Linked DNA regions of Homo sapiens: region 1 is linked to region 2. The links come from fine-mapping of genetic effects on gene expression. A gene starts in region 2. The other region holds a variant in brackets. All regions are shown on one strand. Distances are from middle to middle. Region 1 overlaps LOC105375864 (a long non-coding RNA gene). Region 2 holds the start of CA8 (carbonic anhydrase 8).

Region 1 (8,559 bases), 34 kb after region 2:
CATGGGGTTGGGACTGAGGGGACAGGCAGGAGGGAAAGAAGGAAGATTTGGGATTAGTTACATTGGGAACAGAGACTAGGGAGGGACCAATGTGTAAAAGAATGCCTGGACGTCAGGCACCTCAGACCTTTTGCCCATTTTATGACAAGAAGTATCTAGATCTTGTAGGATGGAGAAATTGAAAGTGCCATTTTCTAGCTATTTGGAACCATTGTCGGGTTTGTATTGGGGTCAAGCGGTCAAGAAGAAAATAGGTGTTTAGGTTTTAGGTCAAGTGTGAGTTGAAGAGCTTTTAAGTTCTTGAAAACACAGGCTAAGGGAGAAGAAGGAGGAATGGAGGGTGGAAGGTTGCCTATAGTGAAGGAGACAAGCCCAGAGATGAGAGGGTAGAGACATGGGAGAAGGGGTGGGGGGTGCTTGCCCCCCAGGAAAGTGGTGCTTGCTACTAAGGGTGAAGGATCAAGGCAGGTGTCCCTGCAGTGATTAGACACCTCTGAAACGTAGGTAAATAATCAAGCAGGCCTCCCCGCAGTGATTAAACACCAAGGGAAGACTGTCTTCCTGAGTCCGTGACTGGCGCCAGAGTTTTGGGTTCATGGATAAAACACATCTTCTCTGTCTCTACCAGAAAAGGAAAGGAGCTGAAATTAAAAGAAGGGAGAGATTGAAGGATGGTGCCAAGATTGAAAGGAGAAAGAGGTTGAGGGATAGTGAGAGAGGCTGGATAAGAGAATAAAAAGAGGCCACTTACCTGATTTAAAATTGGTGAGATGTTCCTTGGGCTGGTTGGTCTGAGGACCTGAGGTCACAGGTGCATCTTTCTCATGGAGCAAAGAGCAGGAGGACAGGGGATTGATCTCCCAAGGGAGGTCTCCCGATCCAAGTCATGGCACCAAATGTCAAGAGCGTCCGTGTGAAGAGACCACCAAACAGGCTTTGTGTGAGTAATAAAGCTTTTTAATCACCTGGGTGCAGGCAGGCTGAGTCCGAAAAGAGAGTCAGTGAAGGGAGATGAGATAGGTGTGGGGCCGTTTTATAGGATTTGGGTGGGTAGTGGAAAATTACAGTCTAAGGGGGTTGTTCTTTGGTGGGCAGAGTGGGGGGTCACCAGGTGCTCAGTGGGGGAGCTTCTGAGCCAGGAGAAGGAATTTCACAAGGTTAATTGCTCAGTTAAGGTGGGGCAGGAACAAATCACAATGGTGGAATGTCATCAGTTAAGGCAGGAACCAGCCATTTTTACTTCTTTTGTGATTCTTCACTTTCTTCAGGCCATCTGGATGCATTCGTGCAGGTCACAAGGGATATGATGGCTTAGCTTGGGCTCAGAGGCCTGACACTTAGGGCTTTTGTTTTGTTTTGTTTTGTTTTTTGAGATGGAGTCTCACTCCTGTCACGCAGGCTGGAGTGCAACAGCGTGATCTCGGCTCACTGCAACCTCCATCTCTGGGTTCAAGTGATTCTCCTTCCTCACCTCCTGAGTAGCTGGGATTACAGGCATGCACCACCATGCCCGGATAATTTTTGTATTTTTAGTAGAGATGGGATTTCGCCATGTTGGCCAGGCTGGTCTTGAACTCCTGACCTCAGGAGATCCACCCACCTCAGCCTCCCAAAGTGCTAGGATTACAGGGGTGAGCCACCACGCCCAGCCAAGGGCTCTTTTTTCCTTAATGTAAATGTGCACAAAGACCATATTATTTTGGCAAGTAGAGGTGCCATAAAACCTACAGACTGCTCAAAAGGGGGTCATTCTCCTTGTTTTCTCATCATTCTTAGATTGTTTCCCATTTTTTTTCTTTCTTTTTTTTTTTTTTTAAGGGAGGAACTGAGCTATGGTCCATGGTTTTTGTGTGGTGGATCAACATGTGCTGCTTGTGGGCAGGACTCCACAGTGTGTCACCACTGAGTAGTTTCAACCCTTTTATATGTCTCAGTTTCTCCCTCCAGAGGTCTGTGACCTCAGAGAGGGCTCAAAACACCAGATGATTAGCCCTTACATGTGTTACCTAGATGAGCCATTTATAAAATTAATTTTTGTTGGGGATTCCCTTGCAGGGCTGCTGCACGTCATGGGGTGGTCAACCTCCCAGACACTCCCATGGGGCCCCCGGTCACCCAGGGAAGCCTTTCAGCTGGAAGGAGCAAAATGCCCCTTCTCTTCAGGGCTAAGAAAACTCAGTCTCTCATTAACATATCAAAACAACAGTTTAGTTCCTCATGCAAATGCACACAGACAAACTCAATTAAGATTAAAAATTTGGGACAAAAAGCAATAGAGAAGACCTTTCAAATGCATCTCCAAACTAGAATTAGGATCCTTAAACAACAACTTTAAATGGGAACAAACAACAAAGCCCCAACAACATGATCACTGAACCCTCTAATGGTAAGGAGAAATTCATGTTACAGGAAAGGGGGCCAGATCCAGGCTCCAAGACAGGGTTCTTGGATCTCGTGCAGGAAAGAATTCAGGGTTAGTCCATAGAGTAACATAAAAGCAAGTTTATTAAGAAAATAAAGGAGTAGGCTGGGCGCAGTGGCTGACACCTGTAATCCCAGCACTCTGGAGGCCAAGGTGGGCAGATCACCTGAGGTCAAGAGTTTGAGACCAGCCTGGCCAATATGGTGAAACCCCGTCTCTACTAAAAATACAAAAATTAGCCAGGTGTAGTGGCACGTGCCTGTAGTCTCAGCTGCTCGGGAGGTTGAGGCAGGAGAATCGCTTGAACCAGGGAGGCAGAAATTGCATGGACCTGAGATCACACCGCTGCATTCTAGCCCAGGTGACAGAGTGAGACTCCATCTCAAAAAAAAAAAGGAAAAAAAAAAAAGAAAGGAGTAGAAGAATGCCTACTCCACAGACAGAGCAGCCCTGAGGGCTGCTGGTTGCCCATTTTTATGGTTATTTCTTCATTATGTGCTAAACAAGGGGTGGATTATTCATGCCTCTCCTTTTTAGATCATATAGGGTAACTTCCTTACATTGCCATGGCATTTACAAACTGTCATGGCACTGATGTGAGTGTAGCAGTGAGGACGATCAGAGGTCACTTTTGTTACCATCTTGGTTTTGGTGGGATTTGACAAGCTTCTTTACTGCAAACTATTTTATCAGCAAGGCCTTTATGATCTGTCTTGTGCTGACCTCCTATCTCATCTTGTGACTTAGAATGCCCAACCATCTGGAAATCCAGCCCAATTGGTCTCAGCCTCATTTTACCCAGCCTCTACTCAAGATGGAGTTGCTCTGGTTCAAATGCCTCTGACATGTAGACCAGTTGGTTGTTAATCTTAACTTTAGCCAAGCTAAACCCTAATTCAGTTACTTATCTAGGAATGGGTTTCAGGCAGAAGACTGCTCTCTACCATCCTAGAAGCAGGAAAAACAACAACAACAACAACACACACACACACACACACACACACACACACTCATCTTCTCTGTTGGAAGTGAGCTTAAACTCCATAAAGGAGTTACCTGCCTTCCCTCATGGGCCCAAGATATTTTCCTTTCACATTCCTATAAAAGATTATATAACTTCTGCTTGAACATTTTCA[A/G]TGACAGAGAACCCACAAATCAAAACTTCTATTTCTTTTTCTTTTCTTTTTCTTTTTTTTTTTTTTTTTGAGACAGAGTCTCCCTCTGTCACCCAGGCTGAAGTGTTTTAGCATGATCTAGGCTCATTGTAACCTCCACCTCCCAGGTTCAAGTGATCCTCCTGCCTCAGCCTCCCAAGTAGCTGGGATTACAGGTACATGCCACCACGCCCGGCTAATTCTTTTTTTTTTTTCAGTAGAGACAGGGTTTCACTGTGTTGGCCAAGCTGGTCTTGAACTCCTGACCTCAAGTGATCCACCCATCTGAGCCTCCCAAAGTGCTAGGACTACAGGCATGAGCCACCACACCTGGCCCAAAACTCCCATTTCTTAATAAGTTTTTCATATATTAAGATCTGCTTTGCTGTAGCTTCTTACCCCCTCCTACCCCTACCCCCAACCCCGTTTACTCTGGTTCTGACCTCTGGAACTACACAAAATAAGGACAGCGCTTTGCTTCATGACAGTTCTTTAGTATTTTATAACTTGGATCACTGTCCACAGTGCATCTCATCTTTGCCCGGCTGAAAATATTCCTGGTCCTATCGTGTGTCCACATAATATTAATACATAATTTCAAGAGCTTCTGCTCTCCTGGTTACACTCTGGATAAACATTCTTCTCTTCATAATATATCTCACGTAAAAAAATGGTCCAAGTCTTAGAAACAGACCAAAGTGATTCCTGGTGTCCTTTCAGTGGAGGGCAGGACATTGTTAGCAGACCCTCTGGGATTCTCTAATTCCACAGGACGTGCACTTTCAATTGCCTGTGATTGACTAGGCTATTTTACAACTCTGTTGGAATAGGGTTTAAGTTATAGAAAATGGATAACGATGCAAATGTTTCCTGCCCATAGCTATGCAAATGATACCCGTGCATGACAATGCAAATGAATTTTGTCTGGCAGAGAATATAAATCTCTGCAAATCAAAATCTCATTTTAAATGGTTTTTAATTAATGAGTTAAATAAAATATTTGACACATTTATTTTATTTTTGTGATTTTACATTTCTGAAAATTATGCTTTTAACCCTCAGGAAACAGGTTCCCAGAACGCAGTGGACCCTTCCTGCTTGCCTGGTGACTCTACGTGTGGTGGGAACTCGAGAGCTTTTTAATAACCTCATTAGCACTATTGACACTTTGAGTACAGAGTGAAACAAAACAATTATTTTCTTCACAGATGATACTGTAGCCAAGTTTCTCATATCTTATGCCTTTATTTTGTAACACGAATGCTAGATTTTTAAATATTTATTTCTTTTAAGTTTAATGTTGAGAATGTGAGCTCATTACTCCAGCCCAAGGAAACAATTGTCCTGTCATTTATGTCTTTATCAAAGAACAAACCAGAATCCAAAACCGCTCAGAACTCAGAGGACTTTGGTAAGCAGAACCTGCTTTCACGGCCGGAATAGGGGAGAGAGAAGGGAGTACAAGGGTTTCTCTGCAGAAGCACAATCCAGCTGAGGCTGATGCAGGTTTGTGGGAAACTTACACAACTGGGGCTGGGAGGCTGTAAGCGGTCCTCTCCAGGAAGAATGGTAGTAACCACAGGAGCATCTCAAACTGGGCCTACTCTATTGATAATAGAATGTCTAAGTACCTTGTAGATATAACAGAGCCAAGACTGCAAGTCATATGGCCCAGGCATGTACAATAGGAAAGATTTGACCTCTGACATCCAAAACCAACAATTCCTCCCCACGGAACCAGGAAGACCAGGACACAACCAGAACCTGAACATCAGAACCATTTCAAAAGCGAGGGGGTCTGACGGCCAGGAAGATCCAGGGCTAAAATCAGCCTCAACGTACCTTACCAAAAATAGTCACATTTGAAGCTCTCCAATCAGACCTTACCACACCAAAATCCTTTCTGCCTTCCAATCCCTTGAAACTTGCCGCAGACTCAAATTTGGGAGACAGATTTCAGCCATGCCTTCTGTGTCAGCCTCTCAATGAATTGTTTTTTATCTCAAAAGCTGGTGCCGTAGTATGGCTTCTAATTACATCAAGCAGTGAGACCATTTGCTCAATAACAGAATAATGCAAAATTGTCCATTTTTCTTTATACAATGTTACACATACTTCACTAAAATTACTCTCCTCAAAATAATATAAAATTAAGAATATAAAATTGCTAGAGCCTCTCCAAGGGCCTTGCAAGGTACCCTGTGAAAGTGATGGGCCCTGAGCATAAGCTTCTTTGGCTTCCCCATTAAGTCTGTCTGAAGGTCTGCTAAGGTGTGTCAGTGCAGAGAACGTCCTCAGTACCTAGGAGTGCGACTTCCTGCCTATCTCACAATTTTCGTGTCATTCATTTCTGTGACTCCCACCTCTTTACAAAAGATATGTAGAAGCTCCATGCACCTACTTTTTGGGGGTGACCACTAATTATTACTACTATTATTATTATTCAGCCCCATGACTTCCTATATTATTCTTAGAGATCACTTGGGAAACTGATTATCTTGATTTTAACAGAATGAAGTTTTCAAAGCTGTTGACCTTTATAAAAATCTAGTCTCCATGCACCTATTTTTTTGGAATCATTTAAAAATTATTCCGAGCTTACTCTGCTTTCCTTTTTAGAGGCCTCATAGATACAGACAAAGAATCTTTGCTTGGCCAAACTCTACTCAGCCTTCTGAATATTCTTCTAGGCCCATCTGTGCACTTCCATGTAAAATCCAGTTTTCGCAAGACCCCTGCTAAGTCAGTTTAGCCTGAATTCACCTTACCCCAGAGATTCCCTCTTGGTAATTTTTCCATTTGCTGACCCCTACCCTGCTCCTTGGCTCTATGGTCCCACTTGCCCATGCTGTACTCAGAGTTGAGCCCAGTCTCTCTCCTTCACTGCAATACCCCATCGCTGTGGTCCCCATACCTATTGCGGTGGACCTGAATAAAGTCTGCCTTACTGTGCTATGACAAGTGTCATTGAATAATTTTTTTCTTTAACAATACCTATTTTCAGATGCCTGAATTTTTTTGGGTTTTTTCCAGAGTAAAACAACAGATGTTGGTGTGGATGCAGAGAAAAGAGAATGCTTATACACTGTTGGTAGAAATGTTAAATCAGTATGACCTCTATGGAAAACAGTATGGAGATTTCTCAAGGAACTAAAAGTAGGACTACCATTCTTCCCAGCAACCCCATGACTGGTTATCTACCCAAAGGAAAATAAATCATTATATAGAGAGACACCCACACTCATATGTTTATGGTGGCACTATTCACAGTAGCAAAGTCATGGAATCAACCTAAATGTCCATCAATGGTTAAATGGATAAAGAAAATGTGTATGTGTACACCATGGAATACTAGACAGCCATAAAAAAGAATGAAATAATGTCCTTTACAGCAACATGGGTGAACCTGAGGTCATTATCCTAAGTGAAATAACTCAGAAACAGAAAATCAAATACTGCATGTTCTCACTTATAAGAGGAAGTTAAACAATGGTATACACGGATATAAAGATGAAAATAATAGATGCTGCAGACCCCAAAAGCAGGGAGAGCAGGAAGGGAGTGAGAATTGGAGAATCACCTATTGTGTACAGTGTTCACTATTTGAGTGATGGGTATACTAGAAGCCCAAACCTCACCATTATGTAATACATCCATGTGACAAACCTGCACATGTACCCCCTGAATCTAAAATAATATTTCTTAAAGATATACAAAAGTATGAATTTTAAATATTATATGCATGGGTCATCACAGAAAAAGAAAGTGAGTACTCGAAAAGCAGTGAGATTTGAAAGCTTATATACTATCTTAAAAGGGTAAGGGGAGGCAGATATAGGTCACGTGGAGAGTAAATGGTATTTAGGAAAGATGAGGGGCAGTAGAAGAAGAGATAGGAGATATGATCGTTTGGGACAACGTTTTTCTGGATTTAGTGTCAACTTCTAGTCTCCTCTGCTGTGAGAAGAGTCAGTCTTCTCTGGTTGATAAAATTTCCTGGAGAGGGGATTTATGACAATTGAGATCCTTTTGGAAGATCTGTCTTTAAGCAGATAAGCAGAGTTCAGAGAAAGCCTCTCCCTGAATTTGCTGTTTTTCAAATGCCTTCAGCTTAAAATAATCAAAGAGTGGCATATTTTTGGGTGGCACATCCCGAATTACTTCATAGTCATATTTTGGGGTAGCATATTCTGTTCTTTAACAATACAAGGAGGAAAATGCATGAGAAAAACAAAGAAATATCTGGGCTTTGAGAAAGATTTGGAAATAATGACAAATCAAATATCTATCCATTTACTTTACAAGCATTTGTTGATCTCCTTCTTGTGCCAGACAATAAACAAATAATTGCACTGCAGGGTTAATAAGCACAAAGCTTATATGCAAAGCTCAGAGGCAGCCTAGAAGTAGGGTTGAGAGAATAGTGGGTTAGAATGTGGAAAAATTGGTCGAATGGGCTTTGGGAATTATTCCGTTGATTATTTAAAGAAGTTCTAGAATTTGTTAATTATGTTACACTTAACTTTGGAAAATATATTTGACCAATGCTTATATGGTGCTTAATTGCTGTGTGCCAGTCACTGTTCTAAGCATTCTATAATTGTTAATTCAATTAACAATCCAATGGGATAGTATTGTTATCATTCCCATTTTATAGATGAGAAAACTGAGTCTCTAAAGGTTTAGAAAGCATGATTCAGGGCCGGGTGCAGTGGCTCACACCTGTAATCCCAGCACTTTGGGAGGCCAAGGCGGGAGGATCACCTGAGGTCAGGAGTTTGAGACCAGCCTGGCCAACATGGTGAAACCCCATCTCTACTAAAAATACTAAAATTAACCAGGCATGGTGGCACGTGCCTACAGTCTCAGCTACTCAGGAGGCTGAAGAAGGAGAATCACTTGAACCCAGGAGGCGGAGGTTGCAGTCAGCCAAGATAGCACCACTGCACTCCAGCCTGAGTGACAGAGTGAGATTCCATCTCA
Region 2 (8,559 bases):
CGATAATACGAGAGTGAAATCATAAGAAAGAGGGCAATAAGAAAACTGGCCTCGTCCAGGTGCTGTGGCTCATACCTGTAATCCCAGCACTTTGGGAGGCCGAGGTGGGCGGATCACCTGAGGTCAGGAGTTTGAGACCAGCCTGACCAACATGGTGAAACCTCGTCTCTACTAAAAATACAAAAATTAGCTTGGTGTGGTGGCGGGCGCCTGTAATCCCAGCTACTTGGGGAGGCTGAGGCAAGAGAATCACTTGAACCTGGGAGGTGGAGATTGCAGTGAGTCAAGACGCACCATTGCACTCCAGCCTAGGCGACAGAGCGAGACTCTGTCTCAAAAGAAAAAAAAAAAAAGGAAAGAAAATTGGCCTCGTCTTCAATAGTAGAGAGTTCATACATAGCTTACTACCAAAGCATAACAGCATTATTATATTCTTACATTCTTGGAGGTAACCACAGGAGAAACAGCTAGAAAGTTTCAAAGTAGTTGTTACTAGGGAACAGCAGCCGTAGGTGGGGAAGAGCAGGGGATAACCACAGGCAGAAAGAACCACAGGCAGAAAGAGTATTATTCACCTTTTTTTTTTTGAGACGGAGTTTTGCTTTTGTCGCCCAGGCTGGAGAGCAATGGCGCAATCTCGGCTCACTGCAACCTCCGCCTCCCAGGTTCAAGTGATTCTCCTGCCTCAACGCCCCAAGTAGCTGGGATTACAGGCGTGTGCCACCATGCCCAGCTAATTTTTGGATTTTTTAGTAGAGATGGGGTTTCACCATGTTGGTCAGGCTGGTGTCGAACTCCTGACCTCCACTGATCCACCCACCTCAGCCTCCCAAAGTGCTGGGATTACACTTGTGAGCCATCACACCCAGCCTATTCAACTATTTTGTATATATTCTATTTTGATAAAGATAAAACATTATTTAAATAAGCGAATGACAGGGTATATAGAGCTTACAAATGGTTCCTCTGAGGAGCTTAAATATCCTAGGGGAAAAAACAACTACTCAAGACATGGTTATTTTGGTTACTTTTCTTGAGTTTGCAGAAATATTGGAAGGGAAAGAACAATAAGGAGGAAATTATTACCATGACAGAGAGGATAAGGGGAATCTGAAGGAGGAAGGTCTCCAGGGAGGCAGGAAAAAAGGGTTCTGGATCATGAGTATCCAAATCAGGCCTAGACAGAAGTGCAGACACTTCTTCTTCAGTGGGCAGGGGTGGAAGAAGGAGGAAGAGAAAAGCACAAAATGCTAGGTGAGGAAGAAACACACTTCATGGTGAGAGGGCCCAGATGTTGGTCCATAGTCTCTGTTTTAGAGTGAGGCAGAAGATTAAAGAAAATTGTGTTTGAGAAGGTAGCAGAAGAAAATGGTAAGTTCAAATTGATGAAGTAAATTTTATCTCAGAGCAGGACTAGGCACACACAGATGCAGTGGAGTATATGTGCTTAGTCATTGCTCTCTGCTCCCACAACCCTTTGTAACACTTGCCACATCAAGTGTACACTAGTACTTTAAAGAACTGGCTTTTCACTAGGCTATGAATCCTCAAGAACTGTCTTATAAATTTATATGCAACCAATATTGATCATGGCACCTGACATGAAATGTATTTTTGTTTTGTGGATATATAAACATTTATTTCCGGAAGTTCAAAGCATCTCAACACATCAACACACATGTACTTCTTTAAATTGCTTTTTATATGCCAGAACAGTCAGCATTCAATAATTTTACAATATCCTTTAAAAAACAGTAAGTAATGTCCCATCAAAGCTAAACCCACACCCCCAAAAAAATTCAAGTCGAAATTTCCATCTTAAACTGACTCTGACTAAGTACATATAAAGCCCAGTAACTCTTTTGGGCAATGCTCACATGCTGACTAAACTCAGAACAGCGAAGGAGACTACATGAATCTATGACTATCTCATGGATTCTAAATTAAAGCTTAGAAACATTTACAATGAATAAAATAAATCCATAGCTGGAAATCAACAGCTGCCTTGATTAATAACAAACCTAAAGATTTTATAGTTTGAGGTATCAACTTTATCAACTTGGAATTAATTTTCGAGCACAGTCTCTATTTATCAAGTACGTCCTAATATTTCAACATACTTTAATTTTTCCCAAAAGAAAAAGACAGTTATTATTCACTATGAAATGCATGCTATTAATGCTACATTTTTTAAAAATCTGATTTCCTCTTTCCTACGATAAAGCCAAAAACTGATTTCCTTGGTAATTACCTAACAACTTTTGCACAGAACATTTCAGATCCATCTCAAATAGGTTTGCAAGTGGTAGGAGAAGTTTCATGGGATGGAACTTAAATAAATAAATAAATAAATAAATAAAAGGAAGAGGTTTGTTTACCATTTAAATCTCTGGCTGAGTTTAGAGGCTGTTTCTTATTGTTATTAGTTAAAATTATTTTTGGCAAACTAATACAGTAGAGAAAATTAACCTGAGAAGTCTACCTTGAATGCCACGTTATGTCAATAAATTCTAATCTTTGGTTTCACAAAGTAGCAAAACAGAGAATTATGATTATCTAAGTGATTTAAGCTAATCAACAATTTTGGACAAAACGCAGATTACTGCACCTGCATGTACCTGTCCTCATATTTCACAAGGTATAAGGTGATCAAACTAAGGTTTTTCCAGTAACATCATAAGAAGCAGAACAACCGACTGATAATCTTCATAATTTCACTCTTTTGTCCTTTCAAAATTGTTTCAGAAGGTAATTCCCAAAAATGCTTTATATTATAATACAAAGGTATCCTGAAAATAGAGATACGTCAGTTGTACTTTTTAAATTGTGCAAGTTAAATCACAGTTCAATAACTCTACGCTGACTTCTAGTTTAAAAGACCACACAAACATATTTTCTAAAATACCTGATTTTGACTTCAGGATAACCTGAATGGTATGTCCATCATTGGTGACTTCACAGTCTCGGCACACCACATAATTTGGGGAGAGGCGGACATCCAACAGCGAGGGGTCATACCTAGCCTCTCTTGAGTTTAGGTTAATAGGAGACTGGTATTCCCCATTAGCATCAGGAAACACCAGACCCCACTCAACACCTAAGAACAAAATGAAATAAATTAAAAACAGGTTAAAAAATAAATTACAGTAAAATTTAACATGTAAAAACTAAACACTTAGAACCCTTGATATCATGAAGAGAGTAATGATACCATCACTATACAGATGAAATATGGTAATTCTATTTGTTTTTGCATTCATTATTTGAATGATCTGTTATTATCAAATACCATACACAAAATCCCGGACTAGCAAAATATTCTATTTGTATTTGTCAACAAAGACATAATAATTTATGATTCTAGGAAATTTGGGTCATTTTTAAGTGATTAGGAAAAAAGAATACCAGAACAATTTCTTCTGCTTATTAGTTCAATTACGTTCAGTACCTGGGAAACAGCTGTAACTTTCAACATACTTAGTGACAGTCAGAACCCTAACTCTCATGCTAGTAAATAGACGCCCCTTATCAGAAATGCAAGTGTAGTATTTTAAAGTGTGCATATGTATATATCTGTGTACATACATATTCCCATAGTCTTTCCAAATTTTTTATAATTAAAATTATATATTCTATATTGGTTTCAACATATGTAGTAAACATCAGCACTACTGGTTGGCTCTAATAGGAGCCCTAGGTCTTTAGGAATAAATCTAGGAAACTCGAGTTTTTCAGAAAGTCAACCGCTTCTCGCCAAACCCAATGATTCAGTCTGAAATTTAGGACATGTTTTAGAAAGACTTGAGCATTGCTAGCAGGCTTCACGAAAAGACCAGAGGCAGAAACACTTTCTCCCCAAAGTCTCCAAGCCAAAAACGAATTCTTCACGCTAACACTGTCTTCCTCAGGTGTTTAGTAAAATGTACCGCTGCTCTTCTTGACTACTCAGAAGACATAAAAGGTACAGCCACGGCTTGGAGGCTAGCCCGCCCTCCGGACCGCAGCAGGTGCGAACGCCAGCCCTGCGGAAGGCTCCCGGGTGAGAGCGCAGGCGGCGGAAGAGCGCAGGCGGCGAGCACGCCTCCCTGGAGCGCCTCCCGCCCGAAACGCACCAGGGGAGTGGGAAAGTGGCAGAGACCCCCGTGGGAAAGAGGGGGCGTGGGGGTGCTCGGAGCGCGCAGCGGCAGCAGGACTCGAGTCCCGCGCTCGGCGAGACACTGACGCCGCCGCGGGACCCCGGACACCCCGACTCGCGGCCACTTACCTTCCTCGTAGCCCCACTCCACACCCTCCTCTTCTTCCTCCTCATCCTCTTCCTTCTCGGGGAAGGCGACGGTATCTTCGATGAAGCTCAGGTCCGCCATGGGAAGGCCGCGGGGCCCCTCGGCGCTCTCGGCAGCAGTGCCTGCGCCTTCGCTGGGCGCGGGGCTGGAGCCGGAGCGGAGCGCGCGTGGGGGAGTGTGAGCACGCGTGAGCGGCAGTGTGAGTGCGAGAGCGCCTCCGGGTGTGAACCGCAGTGTGAGTGCAAGCAGGCGTGCGTTCGGACCGAGTGTTCCAGAGACCCGCGTGGGAAGCGCGTCCGGAGGCCCCAGCAGAGCGAGGGAGCGGCTGTGGCCTGGGGAGCGAGCGCCTGGCGAATTTTATACCCGACCGGGGCGTGTCTGGTACGCGAGGATCCGCCCCCTTCTCTCTCTGGCCGTTGGGGCCAGGGGAGCCGACAGTTAGAATGCGCCTCGGGGCGACTAGTCCCAAGTCACGGAAACCTCGGCGCATCCCCGCCCGCCCTTCCCCCGGGGTCGCCCCCGCCGCCTCCTGGCGCTTCCTCGCTGCGGCGACTCCTGCTTGGCCGCCCGAGCCTTCCTTCCAGAAGCCCGCAAGTCTCCCAAGGTCACTCGGGACCCCTGTGTGCCTGGCCTAGCCCAGAGGCTGCTCACCTATTCATTTTCATCCGTACTCCAGGAAATACCAAAAAGAAGGGGTCCTGGAGGAGAGAGATGGGCTGCCGTGGGTAGGAGAAAGGAGAGGGCTAGGAGACCCCGTAACACAATAAAAAGAGACTCTCCAGCGGAATCTTCTTAGTATCTTCTGAGTATTTACTTTTTAAATCGTCCGTTCAGCGCAGTGGAAACGAGTTTGGAAATTTTTCCAAGAAAGTTCTATTAATTCCTAAAAACGTTTAAGAAAAGAAAATGGTTGTTATCTAGAGAAGTAGCTATGATTTAGGGTTGTGTTTTTTTTTTTTTTTTTTCCAGAAAAGGGTATTGTTTCAAAGCAGGGCTAGCAGAAGGCAGTAGACAGAGGGTGTTCGCTGTCAGAGTCTGGGGCGCTGCTGCAGGCTCACCTGGCTGTGTACACAGCTCCCATTCACCTAGTGAAATCGTGTAAATAATGAAGTGCACACATTGCATAACAAACAGGAACTCTTCTGATCCAAAGAGGTGGCATTGTTACCCTTAAACGTGCTTCTCAGTCTAGTGTTAACGACTTCAGCCCTCTGTTCCTGTGCCTTTTAAAAGCCCTGGTCAGTAACCCCTAAGTAGGTTAACTCCACATTTTTAGAAGATATATGTGCACAATAAACTCGAGTTAGGACCTTAAGTACAATTTGTTTTTTATATGCTCTGGTCATTCATGAAGATATCTATTTGCACTTTGAATAACCTGTTCCTAAATCACACCAGCCTTATGAATGCATAATTCCTCAAATAAGGATGGAAATGATCCGTTTGGGAATGTTTAGTTTCAGTGCTCATATCCTTTACTGCCTGCTAAGCACCTCCACTTTTTAAAAAGACACTTCATAGCTTTTAAAAAAAAAAAATTACAAACTGCTCCAGAAAGTACACTGAGATGGAAAGAAGTGGGGGGAACCCTCAACTCGCTCAATTCTGCCACTTTCTGGAAGGTTTAACCAAATATATGGAAAACTACTGGCCAACATTAGCTTGGAGGATAACCGGTGGATTTTAAGCATTCATATAATTTCTCTTTTCCTTAACTGTGCAGAGGACTGAAACAGTTTGAGAAACTAAATTCATTTTTCACTCACTGCATTCTGGGTGTTCTTTAGTGGACGGTCGTTTGCATCTTTGCAAGCCTGGGACTGGCAGAAGCAGAAGCCTACCCCAAAGCCAGAGCTATTAAAAATAATAAGCACTACTGAAAATATTAACTACTTTTCACTGAAGGTCTTCTAAAAGGAACATTTATTTTTCCTTTCTTGAAAACTTTTTTGTAATCTTCTATTTGTTTTAAGTTTCTTTTTAGAAGTATGTTCACACGTTAATTAAATGCCACAGCTAAGGAAGCCCATACAAAGGCTATGAAGGAATTGGATAATAAAAGCACTGCCACTCTGAGCTCATCAGCAATGGCCTTTCTCCTCTGTCCCCCAAATGTGCCTAAGTATGACATTGTAGCCATTGTGTGACCACCAACTGTGTTTAAAATATCAGGTGAATCATAGAGATGTTTATCAAACCAGAGGATGGTACAATCACCATGGTAAAAAACTGAATTTTCCATGAATAAATACTGTGCCATATTTACAAAAGATAGGCTGAAAGATTGAATTATTAGTATTTACTTTTACAGTAAAAAGACAATTTTGCATATAGCCAGCAATGTATTACTATTCAAATATGCAGTTGACTACTAGCATTGGCCTATATTTGCTCCTTCTGAATTGTTCATGATTATTTGTAGAATGTAACTCCTGTATGCAAGCCTAGGGTTCCCTGTCCAGCCACATATGAGCCAATCCTCTAAGCACCCAAATATTCAATTAACAGCCTTAATTGCTTTGAGACTGTGGGGTTCAGATTTTTGCTAATTAACAGCACCTTAAGACCTTCTCTTCTCAGGTCCCTGCACTATATTACCACCAAAGATGGAATTTCTATTTCTAGTTATTATAAGGTGTCTGTCACTAAAAAAATCTAAACACACAGATCAAAGATATAGGGCAATTCTTTGTTTTACAAAATAGAACAAGCACATCTAAATCCAATACCAGAGAATCTAAAAATATTCATACTCTGTATTATGAATGTGTCTTCCACATATTCCTCTATAATTTTTAATAGGCTTTCAGCCTAATATTATATTTGATCCCTTAAATTAACTTTATATTGCTCACATTTAGTGCTTGCATAGCTAAGACCAAACCATATTAGTAGAACAATTTATTAAAACTAAGACCTATATAACTAACTACCATTTGATACTAAGAGAATATAAATAGAAATATCTAAAAGGGACAAACTAATCTAGATGTCAGAGGAACCAAAGTACTAAGGTCGCTTCCCAGAGTCCACAACCTAGACAGCCCGCTCCTGTCTTTCCTCACTGCTTGTCTACCGTACCAAAGCTTTCTTATTGTATCGGTGAGTCTAGGCCCTAGAGTCATAAATTTGACCTCCTCTTATGTGCATCTTATGCTCTGGGATCACCTCAAGGGTACAGCTAACATATGCATGTCACGTGGCTCCTATACAAACTGTAATTCATAAACTTCAACAGCAATGAATTGGGTTCCTTCATGTGCGCTGCTCTGGACTAGGCACTGTGGGAGAACCAAAAATAAAAAATAAAATACTTCTTCTGCTCTCAAGGAACTCATGGTTCTCTGGAGGGAGGAGAGGGGTAAATAATTATAATACAAGGCAATACGCAATATTAATATGTTAAATAGAAATGCAGGTACCACTACATCTAAGGAAGATGGAATTTTCATACTAATGGGAATGATTTAGAAAAGTTGAACAAGATGGCATTTGGGGCAAACTAGAGGAAATGGGCAGAGTTTGGGTGGGCAGCATGTGAGCAAATAACATTCCAGGTGTGAACAAAGATGCCGAATCATGCAAGTGCTCATTGCGGATCTATTTGCTCCCTTAAATGCCATCTGTGACTGCCAAAACCAATTCAGATACACTAAAAATAAGCACTTCTCTAGGCTTATGTCTCAGGTAAGGCACTTTTTCCTATGGTTGTTTAATTCCTTATGTCTAGTTTTTCTTTTGTCAGGAAAGACAGCAAAATTTTCTTCATTATATATATTTTGATTTCTGAAGGTTTCAAACTTTGTTGATAAAAAAATTTACTTCTTCCTTTTAAATTACTTTTTTCAACTGATTAATCTTTTATTTCACCTGCTTAAAGTTACATTTACGAGCCTCCTTTTTTTTGACCTCTTCTTGGTCTTTTATCTTCAGAAACAAACGACTAGGGCTCCATGTAGTCATTGGAGATGACATCATTGTCTCTATCATTTGCTGCCCCTTCACTGCTTGACCATGTGACTTCTTTGACGAATTAAATATGAGTAGAGGTGGCACGTGCCATTTCCTAGAAGAAAGATTTAGGCGTTATCAAAAACAGACATAGTAGCCCATCAAGTAAAGGTGAGTTCAAGGATAATTTTTATTTGCTCAAATGCTGTTTTTGCCTTTATCTTTTTCTTCAAAGAAAAAAAAAAAGTATCTCTGGCCTGCAAAGAAACCAAACAGTCTAGTACAGTGCTCTTATCTTCACCTCACCAATTTCTTGGACGCCCTA

The links. PIP is the estimated chance that this variant, and not a neighbour inherited with it, causes the effect.
Region 1: its variant is fine-mapped to the expression of CA8 in whole blood (TOPMed, PIP above 0.99).

The regions. Positions count from the first base shown.
Region 1 is chr8:60,310,674-60,319,232 of GRCh38, forward strand. The region is part of intron 5 of LOC105375864 (a long non-coding RNA gene); the gene reads right to left. Among named protein-coding and RNA genes, the nearest start is that of CA8, 34 kb to the left of the region's middle. The variant A/G (reference allele first, on the strand shown) is at 3,559.
Region 2 is chr8:60,276,784-60,285,342 of GRCh38, forward strand. It overlaps CA8 (carbonic anhydrase 8), which reads right to left and starts at 4,617. Exons shown (of 9, transcript NM_004056.6): 1 at 4,265-4,617; 2 at 2,906-3,097. The coding sequence starts at 4,364. LOC105375864 (a long non-coding RNA gene) reads right to left here. Exons shown (of 7, transcript XR_001745925.1): 7 at 8,182-8,349. RefSeq lists an enhancer at 4,093-4,599, a silencer at 4,592-4,800 and a cis regulatory region at 8,077-8,559.